Homo sapiens: one gene and its partners. The main gene of each other region encodes a partner of the protein of the gene in region 2 in a complex. Links are inferred from orthologs where the notes say so. Each region holds a gene or a part of one and is shown on either strand. Other genes may lie near its edges.

Region 1 (8,706 bases), on a different chromosome or scaffold from region 2:
TTGGCTCCCAGAAAAACTACAAGAGTGTCCTTATTTTTCTCATTTCTCCACCAAGAAGAGAAAAAATCATCACAGACCAAGAGTTGGGAATAACATTTCCAAAAAGAGTGAGATCTGTCATCCAGTCCACCCAAATTTCCCCACCTGCACGGCATTGGCAGAGCAGTGACTAAGATCTGCAGATCTGTGCCTTCCAGCAGCCGGGAACGATGAAGCAGCAGGAGAATGGGGGAATCTGGAAGCACTCACAGCTGCAAACTGGGCCTGGGTCCTGCAGCCTCAGCTCAGGGCAGCCCTCTGATGGGGACACTGAAAGAAGCACCCTAGTCATTTTTTCCCCTTTGTTTTTTTTTTTTTGAGTTGGAGTCTGGTTCTGTTGCCTAGGCTGGAGTGCAGTGGCACAATCTTGGCTCACTTCAACCTCCATCTCCTGGGTTCAAGTGATTCTTCTGCCTCAACCTTCCAAGTAGCTGGGATTACACACATCACCATGCCCAGCTTTTTTTTTTTTTTTTTTTTGTATTTTTAGTAGAGACAGGGTTTCACCATGTTGGCCTGGCCTCAAGCTCCTGACCTTCAGGTGATCCGCCCACCTCGGCCTCCCAGAGTGCTGGGATTACAGGTGTAAGCCACCGTGCCCGGCCACAGCAATTTTTTTTTTGCCCACGCTGGAATACAGTGACATGCTCACGGTTCACTATAACCTCAACATCCCAGGCCCAAACAATCCTCTGGCATAAGCCAAGTAGCTGGGACCACAGGCACACACCACCAGGCCTGGCTAATTTTGTTTACTTTTTATAGAGATAGGGTCTCACTATGTTGCCCAGGCTGTTCTCAAACTCCTGTGCTCAAGTGATCCACCTGCCTCTGCCTCTCAGAGTGCTCAGATTACAGGTGTGTGCCACTGTGCCTGGCCCTATTTATTGTTTTTTGTTTGTTTGTTTTTTTGTTGTTTGTTTTTGAGACAAGGACTCGCTCTGTTGCCCAGGCTGGAATACAGTGGTGTGATCATGGCTCACTCCAGCCTCAACCTCCCAGGCTCAAGCCGTCCTCCAGCCTCAGCCTTCCAGAGTGCTGGGATTACAGGCGTGAGCCACCACACCTCACTTATATAACACAGTTTTGTATTTTAACCTTTCTATTATAGGAGCAGTAAATGGTCATAGGAGAAAATGTGAAAAATTATAGACAAGAAAATTGAAACAAAGCCTACCATTTCATTACAAGGTAATGAGAGACCTTTAACTACCAATGTTAGCTTAAGGTGTATTCTTGCAAAGTATGCATAGGTATAGCATGCATATGAACCTGCATGTATGTGTGTAAATATGCTTGTGTGTATATGCATGTGTGTGTAAATGTACATATATGTATGTATACACAAATACATAGTCTCTGTGTGTTTGCAAAACGTGGACATGCTAAGCACACCATTCTGCAGTCTTGTTGGTTCTGTCACAATCTCTCACCTTTCTACTCCAGGCATTTTACCATAGTCAGATTTTCCCAATGAACCCAAAATGTCCTACACATCCTTTTTGACCAGTTGTGTATTCAGTCTGGGGCTGCACATGACATCTGGGTCTCGAGTGTCTTAGCGTCTTTTAATCTAGTAAACCCCATGTCTTTTTTCTTTTTTTTTTTTTTTTGAGACAGAGTCTCGCTCTGTCACCCAGGCTGGAGTGCAGTGGCACGATCTTGACTCACTGCAACCTCCCCTCCCGGGTTCAAGCAGTTCTTCTGCCTCAGCCTCCCGAGTAGCTGGAACTACAGGCGCCCACCACCACGCCTGGCTAATTTTTGTATTTTTAGTAGAGACGGAGTTTCACTATGTTGGCCAGGCTGGTCTCGAACTCCTGACCTTGTGATCCGTCCGCTTCGGCCTCCCAAAGTGCTGGGATTACAGGCGTGAGCCACTGCACCTGGCCTACCCATTTCTATGGCATTGTTTGTTGGATTTGTCTGGCTGCTCACTTGCGTCACGTAGCTCGTTCCTTGTATTTCCGATAAACTAGAAATGATGTCTGAAGGCTCATGGATTCAAGTTAACCCAAGGGGACACATCCCATGTGGCTGACACCACCAGCAATGCTAAGATTGACCATGGCATCTGCCGTGCACCTTGTGATGACACCATGATCCGTGTGGCATCACTTCACTCCTACAGTCATTTTCCCAGCAACTCTTCACCTAATGGTTTTAGCACCAATGAATAATCTTTGTGTTTTAAAATAGGGGGTTTGCAGTTCAGGTATGGTGAGGCCAACCATAGAGTATGCTAAGGATAGGGTGACATTGAAGTAAAGACTCAAAGCCATTGAAGGAGTGAGCCATGTGGCTGGCTGTGGGAAGACTGTTCCAGGAGAGGAAATAGCAAGTGGAAAGGCCTAGACGGAGGTTTAAAGAAAAGCAGGCCAGTGGTGGTGGCTCACGTCTGTAACCCCAACACTTTAGAAGGTTGAGGTGAGAGGATCAGTTGAGGTTGGGAGTTCGAGACCAGCCTGAGCAACATAGCAAGACCCCATCTCTACAAAAAGGTTAAAGAATTAGCTGGGTGTGGTGGCATGTGCCTGTAGTCCTAGCTACTCGGGAGGCTTAAGTGGGAGGAGCGCTTGAGCCCAGGAGTTCAAAGCTGCAGTGAGCTATGATTGCACCACTGCACTCCAGCCTGGGTGACAGAGCGAGACCCTGTCTCTAAAAGAAAAGAAAACAGGCTCAGTACTCTGGAGTGAAGTGGGCAAGGGAGAGGGTGGTGAGAAATAAAGTCAGAGGTAAAGGGGGGCCAGAGCATGCCGGACCTGGCAAGCATTGTCCAGACTTAAATGGGAAGCCATTGGAATGTTTGGGTGGATGCTGATACCCCAAACGTCAGAACAGGCTTTCTGCATATACTTGTTTCATTCCCAAGTCAGTCCCCCATGTAAGTGTGTTAGTGGTCGCAGAGTCCCCTCCATCCATTCCCTGAGTGTTCTTGGGAGCAGGCATTGTTCTGGGCACTGTGAAGACAAAAGTGAAGGAAACAAAATGGCCTAGGCCCTGCCCTCATGGAGCCTGGACTCCAGTGAGGGAAGAGAGACTGTAGAATAATTCCCAAGCAAGAGTGAAATGTGGCCAGGCACGGTAGCTCATGCCTATAATCCCAGCACTTCAGGAGGCCAGGAGTTTGACACCAACCTGGCCAACATGACGAAACCCCATCTCTATTAAAAATACAAAAATTAGCTGGGCATGCTGGTGCACAACTGTAATCCCAGCTACTCGGGAGGCTGAGACAGGAGAATCGCTTGCACCCAGGAGGTGGAGGCTGCAGTGAGCCGAGATCGCGCCACTGCACTCCAGCCCAGGCAACAGAGTGAGACTCTATCTCGAAAGCAAAAAAAAAAAAGAGTGAAATGCAAGCGTGCCTCCAATCTGGTCCTGGAGGTTGGGGATAGCTCCCCTGAGGAAGTGACTCCTGGTCAAAAATCTGAAAGGCCAAGAAGAGTCAACAAAGTGGAGAGAGGAGAGGCTTGTTCCAGGCAGAAATAATAGTGGGAAGGAGGAAGCGTGGCAGACGGCGTGGAAGGAAAGGCAGGCAGAGGTTCCAGAGGCTGCAAGCTTTTTGCCTGCATTCTAAGAGCAATGGGTGATTGTAAGCGAGGGATGACAGGGCTCAGAAGGTCTCTCTGCCTCTGTGTGGAAAAGGGCTTGGAGGGTAGAAATAAATGTGGTCGGCTGGGTGCGGTGACTCATTCCTGGAATCCCAGCACTTTGGGAGGCCGAGGCAGGTGGATCACCTGAGGTCAGGAGTTCGAGACCAGCCTGGCCAACATAGTAAAACCCTGTCTCTACTAAAAATACAAAATTAGCTCAGTGTGGTGGTAGGCGCCTGTAGTCCCAGCTACTCTGGAGGCTGAGGCAAGAGAATCACTTGAACCTGGGAGGCAGAAGTTTCAGCAAGCTGAGACTGCACCACTGCACTTCAGCCTGGGAGGCAGAAGTTTCAGCAAGCTGAGACTGCACCACTGCACTTCAGCCTGGGAGACAGAGCAAGACTCCATCTCAAAACAAAAAACAAAACAAAAAAAAGAAAAGAAATAGATGTAGTCAGACAGTGGGGAATCACTCCGGTCCTGAGAAGCAAAGGCGGTGCTGGGGATGGGAGGATGCAGACAGGTTCCAGAGACACTGAGGGGATCAACAGGACTCCTGAAGCCATCAATCAGTAGGACCGGGTGGAGGAGAGGGACAGATCCAGCTTGGCTTGCATAACACCAGGTTCATCTTGAGGTTGACATTTCTCCTTGACCTTTTTGTTTAGTCCCCACCCGCAAGGTCGCATTAGCTGCCTGCTGAGTTTAATCAAATCTCTTCCTGTCCTGGCAATGCCCGGGAATGAAGAGATAATCAGTCTATTTCCAGAATCCAAAGAGGTTTAGAAGAAAAAGTAGCTTTCATTTAGCTGTTGGCCCTCCCACCAACCTTCCCCAAGTCAGCTGGGTGACTCATACATCTGTGAGACCCTCCGTATGGAGACCGGGGCGGGGGGTGTTGCTTAATGCTTAGAACTGCTGAAACTACCAGTTCACTGTCTCAGCACTAATCCAACTCTGCTCCTTAAGTGGGATTTGGCTTTTAGACATTGAGACCTGGATGCTGGGCATCCTCGCTAGATCCCCTACAAATTCCCCACATACGTAGGCCAGGAGCCTCAGCGGTGCCCCTTCAGGCTCATCTGGCAAGACGGTACCAGCTTGCTCAGAACAGGGGCTGGCTATTCATCATCTCAGAGCATAGAGACCCTCTCCTTGCCACCCGGCCCTTCCCACCTGGTTGGTGACAAATCACAAGGTATGTGACCACCACAGGCCAAAACCTTATCAGAAACCTGGGGCAGGTGTGGGGAAGAGCAAGGATGGGCGTTTTCCTGCAGACAGTATGTCCCGCCTTCACCTTTTCTGTGTGGTTTCCATAAGACTTGGTTGCTATTTAAGGAGACTTGGAGTGAGCGGGTGCAATGGCTCATGCCTATAGTCCCAGTGACTCAGGAGGCTGAGGCTGGAGGATCACTTGAAGCCAGGAATTCGAGACCAACTTGAGCAATACAGTCAGACCCAGTCTCTACAAAAAAACAAAAATAAAAATAAATTAGCTAGGCATGGTGTCACACACCTGTAGTCCTGGCTACTCAGCTGGCTGAGGCAGGAGGATCACGAGCCCAGGAGTTCGAGGCTGCGGTGAGCTATGATTGTGGCACTGCCCTCCAGCCTGGGCAACAGAACGAGCTCCTATATCTTAAAAAAAAAAAAAACCTCAGAGTATGCTTAATTCTAGACCGCTAAGATGGCCTCTTAATTGTAAAACAGAGTGGCTATCTCTTAGTAGGAATTGCCAAATAGAACTTTTGGGATTTTAATATATTCTTTTTTTTTAAAAAAAGTGATAGGATCTTGCTATGTTGCCCAGGCCAGTCTCCAACTCCTGGTTTCAAATGATCCTCTCGCTTCAGCCTCCCAGAATGTTGAGATGACAGGTGTGAGCCACAGTGCCCGGCCATTAATATCTTCTTGAAAACAGTCTTTGCGAAGTGGTTATGTTGTGGTTTTCAGGAACTTTTCTGATTTATTCGCCATTAGACACAGTCACGATAGAACTTTAAATTCAACCTGGCTAAGTGTGATAACACCAAAGGTTAGTCAGAAAGTAAAACCTCATTGGAATCTAGCTAGACTCCCTGGCAAGGTGTACTGAGAAATGTTTGAAGCTTACCAAGAAAAATAAAATATTGAAAACACCCCAAAGCATGCTGCAGTAAAATACAAACTAAGCAAAGACTCACCGATGAAACTCGGATGTTGAAGCCGGTACAAGGGCATGGTGAGGACGCACAGGATCTCGTGAGTAGGTTTCATAACTAGGATGTTCTTGACTTGATATTTAGGATTGTCTTACCTTTCTCCAACCCTCTAACACCTGACCAACACCCCAAGGTGGTAGAAGTTGCCAGGGACAGATAACATGGCAGCCAGCGGGAAGACCAGCAAGTCCGAACCGAACCATGTTATCTTCAAGAAGATCTCCCGGGACAAATCGGTGAGTGGTGCACAAGTGAGTGATTTGATAGAAATTATTGTTTAAAAAAAATGGAGCTTTTTCAAGTACAGTGTAGTCATGATCAACATCAAAACTCTTTGAGGGCCAGGGCGCGGTGGCTCATGCCTGTAATCCCAGCACTTTGGGAGGCGGAGGCGGGATAACTTGAGGCCAGGAGTTCGAGACCAGCCTGGCCAACATGGCAAAACCCATCTCTACTAAAAATACAAAAATTAGCTGGGTATGGTGGCAGGCACCTGTAATCCCAGACTTGGGAGGCTGAGGCACAAGAATCACTTGAACCCAGGAGGTACAGGTTGCAGTGAGCCCAGATGGTGCCACTGCACTCTAGCCTGGGTAGCAGAGGGAGACTCTGTCTCAAATAAAAAACAAACAAACACTGTGAGGGCCAGGGAAGCTTTGTGTCTATTTTTGTCTCTGTCTAAGATGGATGATCACTGAGCTATAAATGAGTGAATGAACTGCAGAAATAGAGCTTCTCTTCAGTCTCATCAAGACTTTAGTCCTGTGTCCCTCAGTTTTCTCCGAATCCCTCAATCCCCACACTGTCACCCCCACCTCTGCATCTTTTCCTAGCCAGCCTTGAACCCTTGACTTACTATTTAAACACAGTTTTGTCAGTACCTGTGATGCCCTTGGCCTTTTGTCTATCTATTGTGTCACCTGCCTGGGTAAAACCCAGACAGTGATCAATGTGACTCCTTCTTCTCCGTGCACCTACCCCACCCGGGGGGTCTCAAGCCTCAGCTGGGCCCGCAGGGCCATTGGATAAGGGAAAATGCCCCAGTCTGCCCCCTTTCCACCACTCTCCAGGGGCACGTTAGATGCTCCAGGTGTGCCCATGAACTTCCTCGCATGGGAGAGGGTCCACCGTCCAGCCTCTGTGGATAGCTCCACTCGAAAGCTTCTTGTGGGCCAAAAATCTAGCTCAGCAACATCTAGTGCAAGCCACATATGTAATTTTAAATTTTCTAGTAGCCACATTTAAAAAGTAAGAAGAAACAGGTGAAATTCATTTTGATGTTATATTTTATTTCAGCCCACTATATCCAAAAAACTATCAGTTCAACTTGTAAATAATAATATAAGAATTATTGAAATCTGATGTGTATTTTATGTTTACAGAACATGTCAATTTGGAATGGCCATATTTCAGGTGTCCGGGAGCCACCTTAAGCAGTGGCTACCCTACTGGACAGGGTAGCTCGCCATCATTCTGGCTTTTTTTTTTTTTTTTTTTTTGAGACAGAGTCTCACTCTGTCACCGAGGCTGGAGTGCAGTGGCGTGATCTCAGCTCACTGCAACCTCTGCCTCCCAGGTTCAAGCAATTCTGCCTCGGCCTCCCTAGTAGCTGGGACTACAGGCATGTGCCACCGCGCCCAGCTAATTTTTGTATTTTTAGTAGAGACAGGGTTTCACCATGTTGGCCAAGCTGGTCTCGAACTCCTGACCTCAGGTGATCCGCCCATCTTGGCCTCCCCAAGTGCTGAGATTACAGGTGTGAGCCACCGCACCTGGCCCATTGTGGCTGACTTCTGAACCCGGTATGGGGTCCAAAGAACCTCCCCATCCTTACCGTGCCACCCAGGAGATCCGGCTTTGCCTGTGTGCTTTCTGCCTTCTCCTCTCCTAGTTAAGGAACTCGGTCATTTTAATCAAGTACTCTGATTCTTTCGTTCTCCAAGCCCTTTCCCAAGTTGTATCTTTCCAGTCCATTTTATCTCAACTTCTGGCTGAAGAGGAAACCACTCGTGTTGGTTTCCCACGTTGTTTTCCCCTTGCTCCTAGATTTTCCACCAAGAAATGTAGATGGTTTTTGTAGATAAGTCCTCACAGGTGGGAAAAGAGAATTCAATTCCTGTCTCATGTATTCAGATCATTTTGCCAGCGATGTCTGTGTGGCCCCAGGCATGGTGTGCCAGGGCTCTGAGCCCATTTCTCTGTGATTCTCCCGACGCTGCCCTCTTCTTTGACCTTCATCCTCCAGCAGGTGGCTAAATGACTGCCCCTGCTCCTGGCGTCTCACCCACACTTGACAACATCCAGAAGGAAGAGGCTGTGGTTTCCTGGGGTCTCTTGTAAGGGTCAGGAAATCTTTCCCAAGACTCTTCTCTCATATCTCATTGGCCAAAACTGGGTCACATGTCCACTGTAAACCAATCCCAAGCCAGAAGAATTAGATGATCGTAGTGAATCAGGCCAATCAAGAATCGTACCCTGGAGCCGGCCTCCTCTGAGCATACCGCCTGGTGGAAGATGGTGGTCCCTGAACAATAGTTGGCGGCTTTTATCCAGGAAGAAGGGGTGTGTGGCTGTTGGATGGGCCCCCGAAGGCTGGCTACAGTCTCACATCACCCACTTCTCTACCTGCCCCCATCCTGCCCCTGTCCTTCCTGTTGCAGTGGAAGGGGTAGTTTGCTCCCATCTGAGGTTCACCACCTCTTACACCCTGGGTTTCATGGTTGGCCACCTTCTCAGGGGCCTCAGTCATTGGTCTGGCTGTGTGTGCAGCCTCTCCTCTCTGCTAGTACTTTGTCTGAGCATAAAAATAAGTACCAGCCAGGCGCGGTGGTTTATGCCTGTAATCCCAGCACTTTGGGAGGCCAAGG
Region 2 (5,778 bases):
CCCTTGGAACTGGGTCCCACTCAGCCTCTAGGCGATTGTCTCCTAATGGGGCTGAGATGAGACACAGTGGGGACAGTGGTTTGGACAATAGGACTGGTGACTCTGGTCCCCAGAGGCCTCATGTCCCTCTGTCTCCAGAAAATTCCCACTCTCACTTCCCTTTCCTCCTCAGTCTTGCTAGGGTCCATTTCTTACCCCTTGCTGAATTTGAGCCCACCCCCTGGACTTTTTCCCCATCTTCTCCAATCTGGCCTAGTTCTATCCTCTGGAAGCAGAGCCGCTGGACGCTCTGGGTTTCCTGAGGCCCGTCCACTGTCACCAATATCAGGAACCATTGCCACGTCCTAATGACGTGCGCTGGAAGCCTCTAGTTTCCAGAAGCTGCACAAAGATCCCTTAGATACTCTGTGTGTCCATCTTTGGCCTGGAAAATACTCTCACCCTGGGGCTAGGAAGACCTCGGTTTGTACAAACTTCCTCAAATGCAGAGCCTGAGGGCTCTCCCCACCTCCTCACCAACCCTCTGCGTGGCATAGCCCTAGCCTCAGCGGGCAGTGGATGCTGGGGCTGGGCATGCAGGGAGAGGCTGGGTGGTGTCATCTGGTAACGCAGCCACCAAACAATGAAGCGACACTGATTCCACAAGGTGCATCTGCATCCCCATCTGATCCATTCCATCCTGTCACCCAGCCATGCAGACGTTTATGATCCCCTTTTCCAGGGAGGGAATGTGAAGCCCCAGAAAGGGCCAGCGCTCGGCAGCCACCTTGGCTGTTCCCAAGTCCCTCACAGGCAGGGTCTCCCTACCTGCCTGTCCTCAGGTACATCCCCGAGGGCCTGCAGTGCTCGTGTGGAATCGACTACTACACGCTCAAGCCGGAGGTCAACAACGAGTCTTTTGTCATCTACATGTTCGTGGTCCACTTCACCATCCCCATGATTATCATCTTTTTCTGCTATGGGCAGCTCGTCTTCACCGTCAAGGAGGTACGGGCCGGGGGGTGGGCGGCCTCACGGCTCTGAGGGTCCAGCCCCCAGCATGCATCTGCGGCTCCTGCTCCCTGGAGGAGCCATGGTCTGGACCCGGGTCCCGTGTCCTGCAGGCCGCTGCCCAGCAGCAGGAGTCAGCCACCACACAGAAGGCAGAGAAGGAGGTCACCCGCATGGTCATCATCATGGTCATCGCTTTCCTGATCTGCTGGGTGCCCTACGCCAGCGTGGCATTCTACATCTTCACCCACCAGGGCTCCAACTTCGGTCCCATCTTCATGACCATCCCAGCGTTCTTTGCCAAGAGCGCCGCCATCTACAACCCTGTCATCTATATCATGATGAACAAGCAGGTGCCTACTGCGGGTGGGAGGGCCCCAGTGCCCCAGGCCACAGGCGCTGCCTGCCAAGGACAAGCTACTTCCCAGGGCAGGGGAGGGGGCTCCATCAGGGTTACTGGCAGCAGTCTTGGGTCAGCAGTCCCAATGGGGAGTGTGTGAGAAATGCAGATTCCTGGCCCCACTCAGAACTGCTGAATCTCAGGGTGGGCCCAGGAACCTGCATTTCCAGCAAGCCCTCCACAGGTGGCTCAGATGCTCACTCAGGTGGGAGAAGCTCCAGTCAGCTAGTTCTGGAAGCCCAATGTCAAAGTCAGAAGGACCCAAGTCGGGAATGGGATGGGCCAGTCTCCATAAAGCTGAATAAGGAGCTAAAAAGTCTTATTCTGAGGGGTAAAGGGGTAAAGGGTTCCTCGGAGAGGTACCTCCGAGGGGTAAACAGTTGGGTAAACAGTCTCTGAAGTCAGCTCTGCCATTTTCTAGCTGTATGGCCCTGGGCAAGTCAATTTCCTTCTCTGTGCTTTGGTTTCCTCATCCATAGAAAGGTAGAAAGGGCAAAACACCAAACTCTTGGATTACAAGAGATAATTTACAGAACACCCTTGGCACACAGAGGGCACCATGAAATGTCACGGGTGACACAGCCCCCTTGTGCTCAGTCCCTGGCATCTCTAGGGGTGAGGAGCGTCTGCCTAGCAGGTTCCCTCCAGGAAGCTGGATTTGAGTGGATGGGGCGCTGGAATCGTGAGGGGCAGAAGCAGGCAAAGGGTCGGGGCGAACCTCACTAACGTGCCAGTTCCAAGCACACTGTGGGCAGCCCTGGCCCTGACTCAAGCCTCTTGCCTTCCAGTTCCGGAACTGCATGCTCACCACCATCTGCTGCGGCAAGAACCCACTGGGTGACGATGAGGCCTCTGCTACCGTGTCCAAGACGGAGACGAGCCAGGTGGCCCCGGCCTAAGACCTGCCTAGGACTCTGTGGCCGACTATAGGCGTCTCCCATCCCCTACACCTTCCCCCAGCCACAGCCATCCCACCAGGAGCAGCGCCTGTGCAGAATGAACGAAGTCACATAGGCTCCTTAATTTTTTTTTTTTTTTTAAGAAATAATTAATGAGGCTCCTCACTCACCTGGGACAGCCTGAGAAGGGACATCCACCAAGACCTACTGATCTGGAGTCCCACGTTCCCCAAGGCCAGCGGGATGTGTGCCCCTCCTCCTCCCAACTCATCTTTCAGGAACACGAGGATTCTTGCTTTCTGGAAAAGTGTCCCAGCTTAGGGATAAGTGTCTAGCACAGAATGGGGCACACAGTAGGTGCTTAATAAATGCTGGATGGATGCAGGAAGGAATGGAGGAATGAATGGGAAGGGAGAACATATCTATCCTCTCAGACCCTCGCAGCAGCAGCAACTCATACTTGGCTAATGATATGGAGCAGTTGTTTTTCCCTCCCTGGGCCTCACTTTCTTCTCCTATAAAATGGAAATCCCAGATCCCTGGTCCTGCCGACACGCAGCTACTGAGAAGACCAAAAGAGGTGTGTGTGTGTCTATGTGTGTGTTTCAGCACTTTGTAAATAGCAAGAAGCTGTACAGATTCTAGTTAATGTTGTGAATAACATCAATTAATGTAACTAGTTAATTACTATGATTATCACCTCCTGATAGTGAACATTTTGAGATTGGGCATTCAGATGATGGGGTTTCACCCAACCTTGGGGCAGGTTTTTAAAAATTAGCTAGGCATCAAGGCCAGACCAGGGCTGGGGGTTGGGCTGTAGGCAGGGACAGTCACAGGAATGCAGAATGCAGTCATCAGACCTGAAAAAACAACACTGGGGGAGGGGGACGGTGAAGGCCAAGTTCCCAATGAGGGTGAGATTGGGCCTGGGGTCTCACCCCTAGTGTGGGGCCCCAGGTCCCGTGCCTCCCCTTCCCAATGTGGCCTATGGAGAGACAGGCCTTTCTCTCAGCCTCTGGAAGCCACCTGCTCTTTTGCTCTAGCACCTGGGTCCCAGCATCTAGAGCATGGAGCCTCTAGAAGCCATGCTCACCCGCCCACATTTAATTAACAGCTGAGTCCCTGATGTCATCCTTATCTCGAAGAGCTTAGAAACAAAGAGTGGGAAATTCCACTGGGCCTACCTTCCTTGGGGATGTTCATGGGCCCCAGTTTCCAGTTTCCCTTGCCAGACAAGCCCATCTTCAGCAGTTGCTAGTCCATTCTCCATTCTGGAGAATCTGCTCCAAAAAGCTGGCCACATCTCTGAGGTGTCAGAATTAAGCTGCCTCAGTAACTGCTCCCCCTTCTCCATATAAGCAAAGCCAGAAGCTCTAGCTTTACCCAGCTCTGCCTGGAGACTAAGGCAAATTGGGCCATTAAAAGCTCAGCTCCTATGTTGGTATTAACGGTGGTGGGTTTTGTTGCTTTCACACTCTATCCACAGGATAGATTGAAACTGCCAGCTTCCACCTGATCCCTGACCCTGGGATGGCTGGATTGAGCAATGAGCAGAGCCAAGCAGCACAGAGTCCCCTGGGGCTAGAGGTGGAGGAGGCAGTCCTGGGAATGGGAAAAACCCCAACTTTGGGGTCATAGAGGCACAGGTAACCCATAAAACTGCAAACAAGCTTTGTCACCTCTCAGAGCTTCCTTATCTGCAAAAAAGAATCTTAAAACTGACCTTGGCTGGGCACAGTGGCTCACACCTCTAATCCCAGCACTTTGGGAGGCCAAGGTGGGCAGATCACGAGGTCAGGAGTTTGAGACCAGCCTGACCAACACGGTGAAACCCTGTCTCTACTAAAAATACAAAAATCAGCTGGGCATGGTGGCGCGTGCCTGTAATCCCAGCTATTCAGTGGGCTGAGGCAGGAGAATCGCTTGAACCTGGGAGGTGGAGGTTGCAGTGAGCCGAGATTGCGCCACTGCACTCCAGCCTGAGCAACAGAGGGACAGTCTGTCTCCAAACAAAACAAAACAAACAAACAAACAAACAAACAAACAAAAAACAACAACAAAAAAACCACTTGATCCTAAGGGGATTAGATGCGACTGTGGACTTTAAGTGGCCAGCCTACTGCCTGGCATGCAGCAGATGAGACTATGGCAATACTGGGCTTCAGCTCAGAGCTGGCCTTACTAGAGACCCTGTCCCAAAGGGGAAAAGGATGGAGCTAAAGCTCCCGAGAGTCACCCCCTCCTCCGAGGTGAGAAAGGAGGGCAGGAGCATGAGATAGCCGATCCTCGGTGCCTTGGTGAGGCTGGGGCAAATCATGCTGGGATCTCTATCATTGTCCCTCTTTACTGTGACTCACTAGATAATATCAGTCAGGATACTTTTGGTCACAAGTGATAGGAAATCCAACTCATTTGGGCTGAAGCAAAAGGGACACATTGTTGGCTCACATGAACAAAAAGCCCGGGGCTTCAGGCACAGGGTATCACCATGACTGAGATGGGGATTAATTCTGTGATTGGCCAAGTCTAGGTCACCTGATCATACGTAACTCATTTATGCCTGAGGTTGCAATTTTTTGGATTTTTGCAATCAGACCTTGGCGATGACCTTGAGCAGTAGGATATAAATAACTCCCACATGCTTAGCGTTCCAATAATGGAATACTAGGCATACGCAGGTCTAACTGCATCACCATGGCTGGAATGGGGATTCATCCTCTGATTGGTCAGACCTAGGTCACATGCTCACCCTGCAGCCCAAGCAGGCTGAATGGGGAGAGGTAGGTTTCACAAAGGAAAGCCCAGGTGCTGTTACCTGAAGTAGGAGGGCAGGAGGCAGGGTGAGCAGAGCCAACATCAACCCAGAGGGAATGGAATCTAAGTTGGTGTTTTCTGGGCACGTGGCTGGACCAGGCCTCCCTCCCTCATCATCTCAGGGACATGAGGGAGAAGATTCCTATGGGTGGTCCCGAAGGTCTCACCCTTTGTTTTGGATGCTGTGTTGGGCCAGGGTGGCAGTGGGTGGGACAGTGGCATCTTAGCTGCCCTGACTTGCAGGCAGCCCATTCCAGCTCCCCGCCCCAACCCCAACCCAGCCCACTTTTTCTGAGAAATGGTACATTTGCCCCAGCCTCATGTCCAGAGGAAAATTTTACTCTAACACCAGAACATTCTCTGGTTTGTCCTGATAGACAAGAAAGCCTCCACCTCCTTAATTTACAAATGACTTGACAGCTGCTTCGTGGGCACTTGCATACATAAAGAGAAGGAGCTGCTGCCTTAAGTTGCAGCAAGTTTGGCCCCACCTCATCTCCAGGCAGCCAGCAGATGTACAGAGTGCCTCTTGGGTACAATGGCAGCTCCATTCAACCAAACCTGAGCAAGCTGACCCCATGCCAGAATGCACTGGGGACTCGGAGATGAATTGGAGCCTAGAGACCAAGTCTCTAGGCTATGACCTGGGCTGCCTCACGGCCACAGAGCTCT
Region 3 (8,976 bases), on a different chromosome or scaffold from region 2:
AGTTAATGTCCAGCTTCAGAGCTTTGAAGGACAGGCTGACACTCTTTTTAAGGGCTAATGCAGCTGGTGACTTTAAGTTGAAGCCAATGCTCATTTAACATTCCAAAAATCCTAGGGTCCTTAAAACTGATACTGCTATGCCTGTGCTCTATAAAAGGAAAAACAAAGCCTGGATGACAGCACATTTGTTTGTAGCCTGGTTTACTAAATATGTTAAGCCCTCTATTGAGACTTACTGCTCAAAATAAAAGATTCCTTTTGAAATATTGAAATTGACAATGCACATGGTAATTCAGAGCTCTGATGATATACAAAAAGATTACTATTTATATACTACTATATAAATACTCCTAAGAAGTTATATAACAAGGACAACAAAAAGTAGTAACTATTTTCTTGTTAGGCTTTATGTAAAAATCAAGTTTGTGTTGTTTTCCAAGTTATCGATATTCCTATACTTTAATTTTAAAAAGTATTGAAACCATGTTCAATGGCCAATGAAACTGCACCTCTTGATGTTTAATATATGGTGTTTATCTGTAAACATTTATTTTGTTAATATTTACACAGTGATTTATAAAAGATTATAAACTGCTGAAGGCTCAGAGGATTGTTAGCATTTTTAGCAATTTTTTTTTGTTAAGGTATGCACATTGCTTTTTTAGACATAGTGCTATTGCACACTTAATAGACTACAGTATAGTATAAACATAATTTTCATATGGCCTGGGAAACTAAAACATTTGTGTGATCACTTTACCGTGATATTCACTTTATTGCGGTGGTCTGGAACAGAATCTGCAGTATCCTTGAGGTCTGCCTGTGATTGGGAAATATATTTGGATAGTTAGATAGTGCTAACTATATTATTGAGTACATGGTATGCTCATGTACTCAGTAATAACATATGTTACAGGAGTAACACAGGAGGAAGTAGTAAATATAGAATCATTTGTTTTTTCCAGCCAGAAAGGAGTAATAATTAAACTTGCCTTTGAGGGAATTTAGCCTGGCACAATCAGACCGATTGGACTGGGATAGAGTGGAGCCTAGAGTAAGGAAACCTAAGTGAGAAGCTGTTGCAACAATCAGGGCTGAAATTGCTGAGAAATATGATTATGGGAGTTAGTAATAGAAATGTGTTAAAGAGCAATATTTTAAAAATCTTAAAAGAGACAGAATTTGAGATAGGAAAAGGCACCCTGGGAAACAGTTGTGACTCTTATCCAATAATCATATATAAAATTCTATCCTAATTCATAAAAAAAATGTAGAAAGGTAGAAATCAACTCCAATGAAAAAAATACATATTTGTGTTACCTATTAGTACATAAGAGCTGTTTAATGTTGGCAATGTAAACTTGTTGCACCATCTGAATGTACTAACTTGAAAGAGTAAGGTTTGCTTTATTCCCTCAAGATCAAAAGATTGCTCTTAGGAAGCCCCAAAAGGCATGAACTCTCTGGAAGAAATACCAGGCTTGGAGCTCCCTGAAGTGTACATTTGAGCACCATTAGCAAAGGAGAGATGGTTTGCCTCAAGTTTCATGGGAATATACAAGGATAAAGGTCATTGCTAAGGCAGCCACAACTCAAACCACCTAGGGATAGAATGCCTGAAATCAAAACCTCCTATAAGATTGGAAACAAAATAAAGAGTAACACTGATCACAGCCTGTTTTGGCAATTTCCAGCATTAGCTGAGCCATTGAGACATCCCTAAGACGTAGCAACCTCAAGTCATTGAAGTCAGCCACAGGTAACATCCCCACGAGCAATTCAGCTTGATGACCGTAGAAACGCAGGTGATACTGGCAAAAGAGACATCTCCAAAAACATAGATTGAAATCTGGTTATTAAAAGCAGGTAGCAAATAATTGCATGTCACCTCTAGCTATATGTTTAATCATCGATGTAAAATAGTGATTACTCACACTTTTTAAAGGCTAATGTTGCTTTCTGAAGATTCCACAGAGATCCTAACCAAAAATAGCAACAGAAAATTTATTTTCATCCTCCATACTTGTGGTATTTCAGTGACTATTGGAGGTTAAGTGTGGTTCAATCTCTGTATTTGTCCTCAAATCAATTTTACTGTGATGCAATAAAGAAACAATATTCTTAAACGTCATTCTCAATGATTATTCTAAAAGACCACTGCACTCCAACACAATCTCTTGCTTTTTGTGTGTGTGCATGGGCTTGTGCATTCACGTTTTTGTGCGTGTCTGTGTGTGCAAGTGTGTGTACACAGGGCAACCATCTCTCCTAGCTGGAACATACATTAAGTTGGTGCAAAAGTAATTGCGGTTTTTGTAATTACTTTTAAAATGACCAAAAGCACAATTACTTTTGCACTGACCTTACATACATGTGTGTATGTCTGTGTGTGTGTATGTATGCATGTATAAAACTCTAACATGATGTTGGTGTTTTGGCTAGCTTCACATTTCTTGTTTTCAAGAACAAACAAAATTTACGGTCACGGCATCTAATTTAGCTTTTTTTTTTTCTGTTGTCATCTTCTATCAGTTTTCCCTTACTGTAGAACAAACAGGGCTTAACAATTGAAAAGGAGGATGCTGCTATTACTTTTAAGACTGAGGAAACAAATGTGTGACTATTGGACTAATAGCTACAATCGTATATACTGACACTATTTAAAACTAAAATTTGGCTTTTTGTTGATTTTTTTGAGTCACTCCAAAATTTTAGAAAAGAAATCCTAAGTATACTGTCACTAAGCACAGGAAAGAAAGGGCCTCCAGCCTCTATCAGTTTGTCAGCAAGAAGTAATTTTGAACATTTACTATAACTAGTACTGTGCCATATACCATGTAGACCATTCAAGCTAGTAAGATATTATCACCACGCTAGCGGAGTTTACTATTTTGATTTTCCTCATTTCTTTACGTACAGAAAGCTATATGACTAAGTGAAGCAATATGAACTAATAGCTGTATTAAGCCCAGCTCATTAATGATGCTGTGTCCGAGGCACCCAGGGGAGAAGGCTGAGAAATGAGTCTTGCTTTCCTCTCTAGCTCTCCCGCTCTCCCTCTCTGTAACACAGACATACCTAGAGTTTTATGTCAAGAATATTTTAATCACTGATGAAAAAATCACCTGATAATCTCATCAAGTTGATGAACATTACTGGTTACAACAGAAAAGTGGAAGTTCATCGTTTTATACAGTGCAGAAAATGTATACTCCTACTCCTGAAAGAGTTGGTCAGTTTTAGTTAGTAATCCCATTAGGAAGCCTTAGTAAAACATGTATGTTCCTAAAAGCAGGGTACGTCTCTGCCAAAAAGCTATGAGGTATATTTATGCTTGTATGCAAATTATATGATGTAGCCTGTCAGTTCGTTTCTGCCATAGAACATGCAAGAATTCTGTTTATTCAGGGTGCTATTATATTCAATTTCTATAAAAAAGCACTAGGCAAAAAGAGATTAAATGTGCTAAGTGTTGCTTTCAGAGTGGACTTTGTGTTCACAGGTGAGCATTAGGCCGTGCAAATCTCCTTCCTTTGGGACAGGCCCTTTGCATTGTAAAAGCAATACCACATGATTTGCACAAATCCTTGCCTATCCACCACTGCACATCTTTATACTATCATAATATGGCTTTGGAAGAACGGAACCCAGGAAGTTTTGACTATGTTTATGTATCTTCAGCCTAATATTTTTGATGTGGAAAAAGTAAACAAAGCAGGACTATGTATTTAATCTGGCAGCCTATTTTCTTGTTGCATGAATATGTAAAAACTCACCTGTTCAAACTTTGCACATGATCCCACAAGAAGAGCACCACTGACAGGTTGGTGGATTGACTGTATTCTGGCATTTTCTGGTTAAGCACATTCACAAATCCCAAAATGCACACTGAAAGATGTGCCACAGGCAACCGACTCTGTTCATAAGGAAAATATTGATTGACTATCTACCAAGCACTTTATGCTTCATATAAATAAAAAATTGTGCAACATAATCTCTGCCCTCAATCCTGAAGATTTTCAAGAAGTACATGGTATCTGTTGGGGTAGTTGAAAGCTATGGAACTTATTTAGGTGTAATTACTGTTTTTAGTTTGTAGGAAAAACCAAATTACCTGCTGTTTCAAAGAACATTGGTTTTTATTCCCTTGGTACCAAATCAGTAAGAGTCCCTCCAGCACAGCAGCTGTTGCTTAATGGCCCTAAAGAGTTAATGCGCTGCCTAAATTGAACATAGTTCAGTGTCTACACCAAGTGGGCCCTCAATTAGTGTTGATGGATTGACTTTCTCACAGGCGGCAAAAGCTCAATTTATAGAGATGGATCCTATGACACTAAAATCAATAATTTAAGAAAACTGTGTTGAATTTTATATTTGTAGCAATACAATATGTACAAATATAAAAACTATATGTATTTGTATCCATTGTTAAAAAAAAGATTTTTTTTGTTCCCTGACAGATGCTAATAGATGCTCAATAGCTTTAAGTAATAATCTAAGCATAGGTAGACCATAAAAGTTGGATAACTTACATGTATATATTCTGATTGTGATATAGGAGTGATTATAAAGAAATTGAAGGGCCAAATATCTGAAGATAAGATGTAAGCATCGCTGATTAGTAATAATAACTTTTAATCACAGTAATAAAAATTGCCCAGTAGTGAGAAACATTCTATTTGAATTGCTTATTGTAGATCATCTCTAGTGTATAGATTTTGACAACTTTCTACATTATTTTATACTATAAAGCAGATAAGCCTGTTTTCGAAGATGTGCCCGAAGCAGTCATTTAATTTGAAAGCATAATGAACTTCCTCTCTAGCCTCCATCAGGGGGGTATGGTTTTACCACCTGATCAGGTGACAGATGAGAAAGCATCTCCTTAGTCAAAGCAGAATCTTAGAGCATTAGGGAATGGACTGCTAGGTACTTCAGCAGAGCATTACTCTTGCCTCCTATGTCCAAACCACAGCTGTGCTCAACATTTGAAAAATCTGAACATATAAACTGACAAGTATCTACCACCACAAGATGGGAAGTGGAATTAGTTCAGAGAGCAAGGAGTCAGCCAAAAGATCAAAAGAACTGGAGAAAAAGCTTCAGGAGGATGCTGAGCGAGATGCAAGAACCGTAAAGCTGCTACTATTAGGTAATTTCTTTTCCCTTTTGCTTTCAAAAACCTGACTTTTTTTTCAATTGTGATATATTTACTTTTCTCAGACTTTAATTTCGAGTGTATTATCATATGGGAAATTTATTATAAAAATGTGTTTGGAAACTTAAGGAAAATTTATTTGTACTCTATCAATATTTAATAATTTTTCTGTTTAGTATTTTATTACCTTTTTGTTAAGCAAGGAGGCAAATATTTATCAGCTAATTTCTCTGTCAGTAATATGGTTTACTATTATTAAAATAAAAATCAGATACATTTATTATTTTATTGCACCCTAATCATTTTCTGAATGTCAGCTTTTTAATACTGAAAGAAATCCTTTAGCTACAAGTTATAAAGAGTTATATTATTTTGTTTAAACAGAAATAGGTTGAATTGTTTGACGTTGAAGTTAATGTTTGTTATTTACTTGTATAGTTAAAAATCAATTAGTCAAGTTAGAGAACAATGATAAGGTACTTTAAATTATATTAACAATATTACTTAGGCTCCTGAATACTGCCTGCAATATTGCCTGTACACTTGAAAAATACTCTACCTAAATCCTTTTAGAGCATTTATATATTCATTCAGGTCAGGATTTATGTCTCTTTTATTTTTTTTTCCTTCTTTCAAAACTCAGCACTGTTTTACCTTGACTATAAATTCAATAAATGTTCAATTAATTGAAAGAATAAAAATAATCCATATGCAGATTTTTTCTATAAAGCATAAAACATTTTACATGCAGTTTCACTGAAACAGAAATATGTTTTTGAAATAAAAATGATGACCTATATAAAGAATACAAAGCAAGCACTTACTTCTGATTCAATTATGAGTTGTACTTTCTCCCTGATTTTGGTTATACACAAAAGGACTTCATCTTATTTCAGAATCGTGCATATTTCACATAACAAATTTCCTCATATTTTAAGTATTTAAACACTTAAATACTTAATATTAAATGAATTAAATACTTAAACTTATTTAAGTATTCCTTCGTTGTGTCTAATTTGCTCCCAGTGGCAAGAGTGTTTCAGAAGCCAACTGTGGGATTCCCAGCACTTGCTCCTTAAAGGAAAGGAAACATCCTTGCCCCTTACACACAGGTTCTGTGCCTGCACACAGGCCCACAGCACTTGTCAGTAACTACCCAGAGGTTGGTGACTTTGAAAGATGTGGGTTAAGTACTAATGACACCAGGAAATATATGCTTCCTAACACACCATAGAATTCTGTTAGTTTCTGAGCAAGAGTGAAAGTAATATGGACACAGGAAAAGCAAATGAAAGGTAAAAGGGAAAGACAAGCATTCTTACAAATTCATTTTTATATTCCTTTTGTACTAAGATCAATGACATAAGAATGGTGATAAAACGTATTAAAAATTTCCGTGTTTAAATAACATTTCAATAGATGTGTGTTTTCAATATACCAATTATCTATTTTTTTACATATTCTCTTATTTTGTAAAAATACAAATGGAAAGCCAAAACAATGAAAGAGCTAATACCACAATTTAGACTAAGACAAAAACTATTAAACATGCCAAAAGCAATGACTCTTGAGATAAGCATATCAGAGCTGCCAGTCAACTAGAGATTCAGTTGTGACGGAAAAGAACAAGGTAGAAAGGTGGTTTCTAGGGGCTAGGGTGGTTGGGGGGAACAAGGGGAAAGGGAGTTGTTGGTCAAAGGACACAAAATTACAGTTAAATAGGAAGAATAAATTTCAAGAGATCTACTGTTCAGCACGGTGACTATAGTTAATGATGATCTATTGTATTCTTGAAAAATGTAAAGAGAGTAGGTGTTATGTGCACTTACCACAAAAATGATAACTGTGAAGTAATACATTTGTTAATTAGCTAGATTTAACCATTCTACACTGTATTTTTACTTCAACATATCGTGTTGGACACAACACAAGCATGGAATGTTATTTGTCAATTTAAAAAAATAAATTAAAAATGTTCAAAAAGAGTATATATAGATGAATGAAAACACATCACTGAAAATTGGGTCAAAAAGGTTCAATGTAATGATGGACAAAAGAAAGATTTTTTTTAAATTTGGAACTGAAAATCAATGGACTACTGATACATACAGGGTTCCAGAATTAGTAAATTTTACCACTCCACAGAGCCATTGACTGGGACCCAACTTATTGTATGCAATGCTATCAAATGAAAAATAAGTCAGATGAATTATTTTTAGACTTAAGTGTTGGTTAGATCAAGAAGAAAGAGCAATATTTGTACCAGAAGTATAAAAGAATCATTAGTGGGACTATTACATGTTTTACTTTCCCAAGGTGTTTACAATTTTATACATACAATTTCATCATTAGTAAGTAAAATACTTGGATTTATTTGGTTCCAACACTATGTGCACTAAACTCCTTTGTCACATTTTATTTATACAAAATAAATGAAATTCTCTTAAGTTGTTCCTATTTCAATTATATTACAAACATCTGGCTAAGTTTCCCTTTTGGAGTCCATCTGAATTCTACATATGATGATACAATTATCAAATTCATAACAGTCTTATAACAGCTCTACTTCATTCTCATGTTTGGATTGAATTCAAATTCTCGAAACTGTAATTTTTATATTCAATTTGACCTCATTAAGACATTATAAAAGTGCTTAGTTGAACTAAACCAAAACTTTCCACTCTCCTACCCTCAAATCTCCTCACCAATGAAATCTATTTAATTTTTCCCATCATTGAAACGATGTTCTCATTCATCAGTGTCGTCTGAATGACACTTTTAAGTTTATCAGTGAGTACATGTCACATGGAACTAACCAGTTTAACCTTAGTAGTGATCAGCTCCTGAGTCAATACCTACATTTACAAAAATAAGAAATCTAAAAAACACTTTTGACAGATTTTTTTTCAGTATGTTGATCTTCATCTAATGAATTTCTAGAAGCTTAAACTCATAACACCAACTTTCCACATTTAACATGTACTGCAAAGCGGATGTAACCATTTGGTATTATCGAACACAAGATTTCACTGAATCTGAAGAGCGGTCAAAGTGCGACTTTACAATTAAAGGATCATCTTGCAGACAGATGCCTTTTTTTATTACACCTTTCAGACCTTCAGTAAAATTACAGAACAGATGCCAAATCTGTGTTTTATTTTAGCAAAAAGTAGGCTTTTAGGAAACACTGGAGATGACTCATACATTGCTGAGCACATTTGATAACTGCAATCAAGAAAATAATGCCACATGCTTTAAAAAATTTACTTGCAAAGATATTCCAGAAAGAGCACATTTTAATAAGAAAAACAAATTCTAACGGATAAAATATTCTCATTTGTATCTAAGTACGTTTTAAAGTTTTATAAACGTTTCATTCAATGGTACTTTTATTCAAAATAATACCTATTATTTAATTGTAAACTCAATATGGATCATGTTTCCATTTTTCCTTTCTCCTCTCTTTATGCTTATTACATCAAATTTCAGTTTGAGTTTATTTTGCTGCATCAGTTTCGTTTGTTTTTTTTGCAAATTTCCATCACATGGGCTGCTTAGATTTGAAGCCCCATGGAAAGCATAGGAAAAAAATTAGCTTTCTTTTTTCTTCATATTCAAAACACCCTCTGCCACATTTATATATATAATTAACATTTATTCTACAATTTTTCACTTTTAGCTAGTGATTTCCAGCATTATCATGGGAAGTTCATCATAGATGTTCTTTTCTTTTAGTTCTAAAACCCTTTATTTTTATTTTTTCTTTGTGCTATATTGTAAGAGTCACACTATTATTATTTTAATGATGTAATCTGAGT

The links. Proteins that work in one complex are often made in the same cells at the same time.
Region 1: the proteins of RHO (region 2) and SAG are in contact, whole or in part, in a crystal structure (PDB 4PXF), measured with the Bos taurus proteins. The link is inferred for Homo sapiens from one-to-one orthologs. Residues at the interface, in NP_001014890.1 of Bos taurus: Arg135, Val138, Val139, Lys141, Leu226, Glu249, Val250, Met253, Met309, Asn310, Lys311, Gln312; in XP_010802144.1 of Bos taurus: Asp71, Ile72, Met75, Gly76, Leu77.
Region 3: the proteins of RHO (region 2) and GNAT3 are in contact, whole or in part, in a crystal structure (PDB 4A4M), measured with the Bos taurus proteins. The link is inferred for Homo sapiens from one-to-one orthologs. Residues at the interface, in NP_001014890.1 of Bos taurus: Leu72, Arg135, Val138, Val139, Lys141, Thr229, Val230, Ala233, Thr242, Thr243, Lys245, Ala246, Glu249, Val250, Asn310, Lys311, Gln312; in NP_001103452.1 of Bos taurus: Ile344, Asn347, Leu348, Lys349, Asp350, Cys351, Gly352, Leu353, Phe354.

What each region holds. Positions count from the first base shown.
Region 1 is NC_000002.12:233,303,190-233,311,895, forward strand, and holds the start of SAG (S-arrestin), read left to right. Parts: upstream 1-4,626; 5' UTR 4,627-4,833; intron 4,834-5,972; 5' UTR 5,973-6,000; coding exon 6,001-6,075; intron 6,076-8,706. UniProt on the Homo sapiens protein: Binds to photoactivated, phosphorylated RHO and terminates RHO signaling via G-proteins by competing with G-proteins for the same binding site on RHO. May play a role in preventing light-dependent degeneration of retinal photoreceptor cells.
Region 2 is NC_000003.12:129,531,430-129,537,207, forward strand, and holds the end of RHO (rhodopsin), read left to right. Parts: intron 1-821; coding exon 822-987; intron 988-1,103; coding exon 1,104-1,343; intron 1,344-2,178; coding exon 2,179-2,289; 3' UTR 2,290-3,915; downstream 3,916-5,778. UniProt on the Homo sapiens protein: Photoreceptor required for image-forming vision at low light intensity. Required for photoreceptor cell viability after birth.
Region 3 is NC_000007.14:80,507,985-80,516,960, reverse strand, and holds the start of GNAT3 (guanine nucleotide-binding protein G(t) subunit alpha-3), read left to right. Parts: upstream 1-4,896; 5' UTR 4,897-5,034; coding exon 5,035-5,152; intron 5,153-8,976. UniProt on the Homo sapiens protein: Guanine nucleotide-binding protein (G protein) alpha subunit playing a prominent role in bitter and sweet taste transduction as well as in umami (monosodium glutamate, monopotassium glutamate, and inosine monophosphate) taste transduction.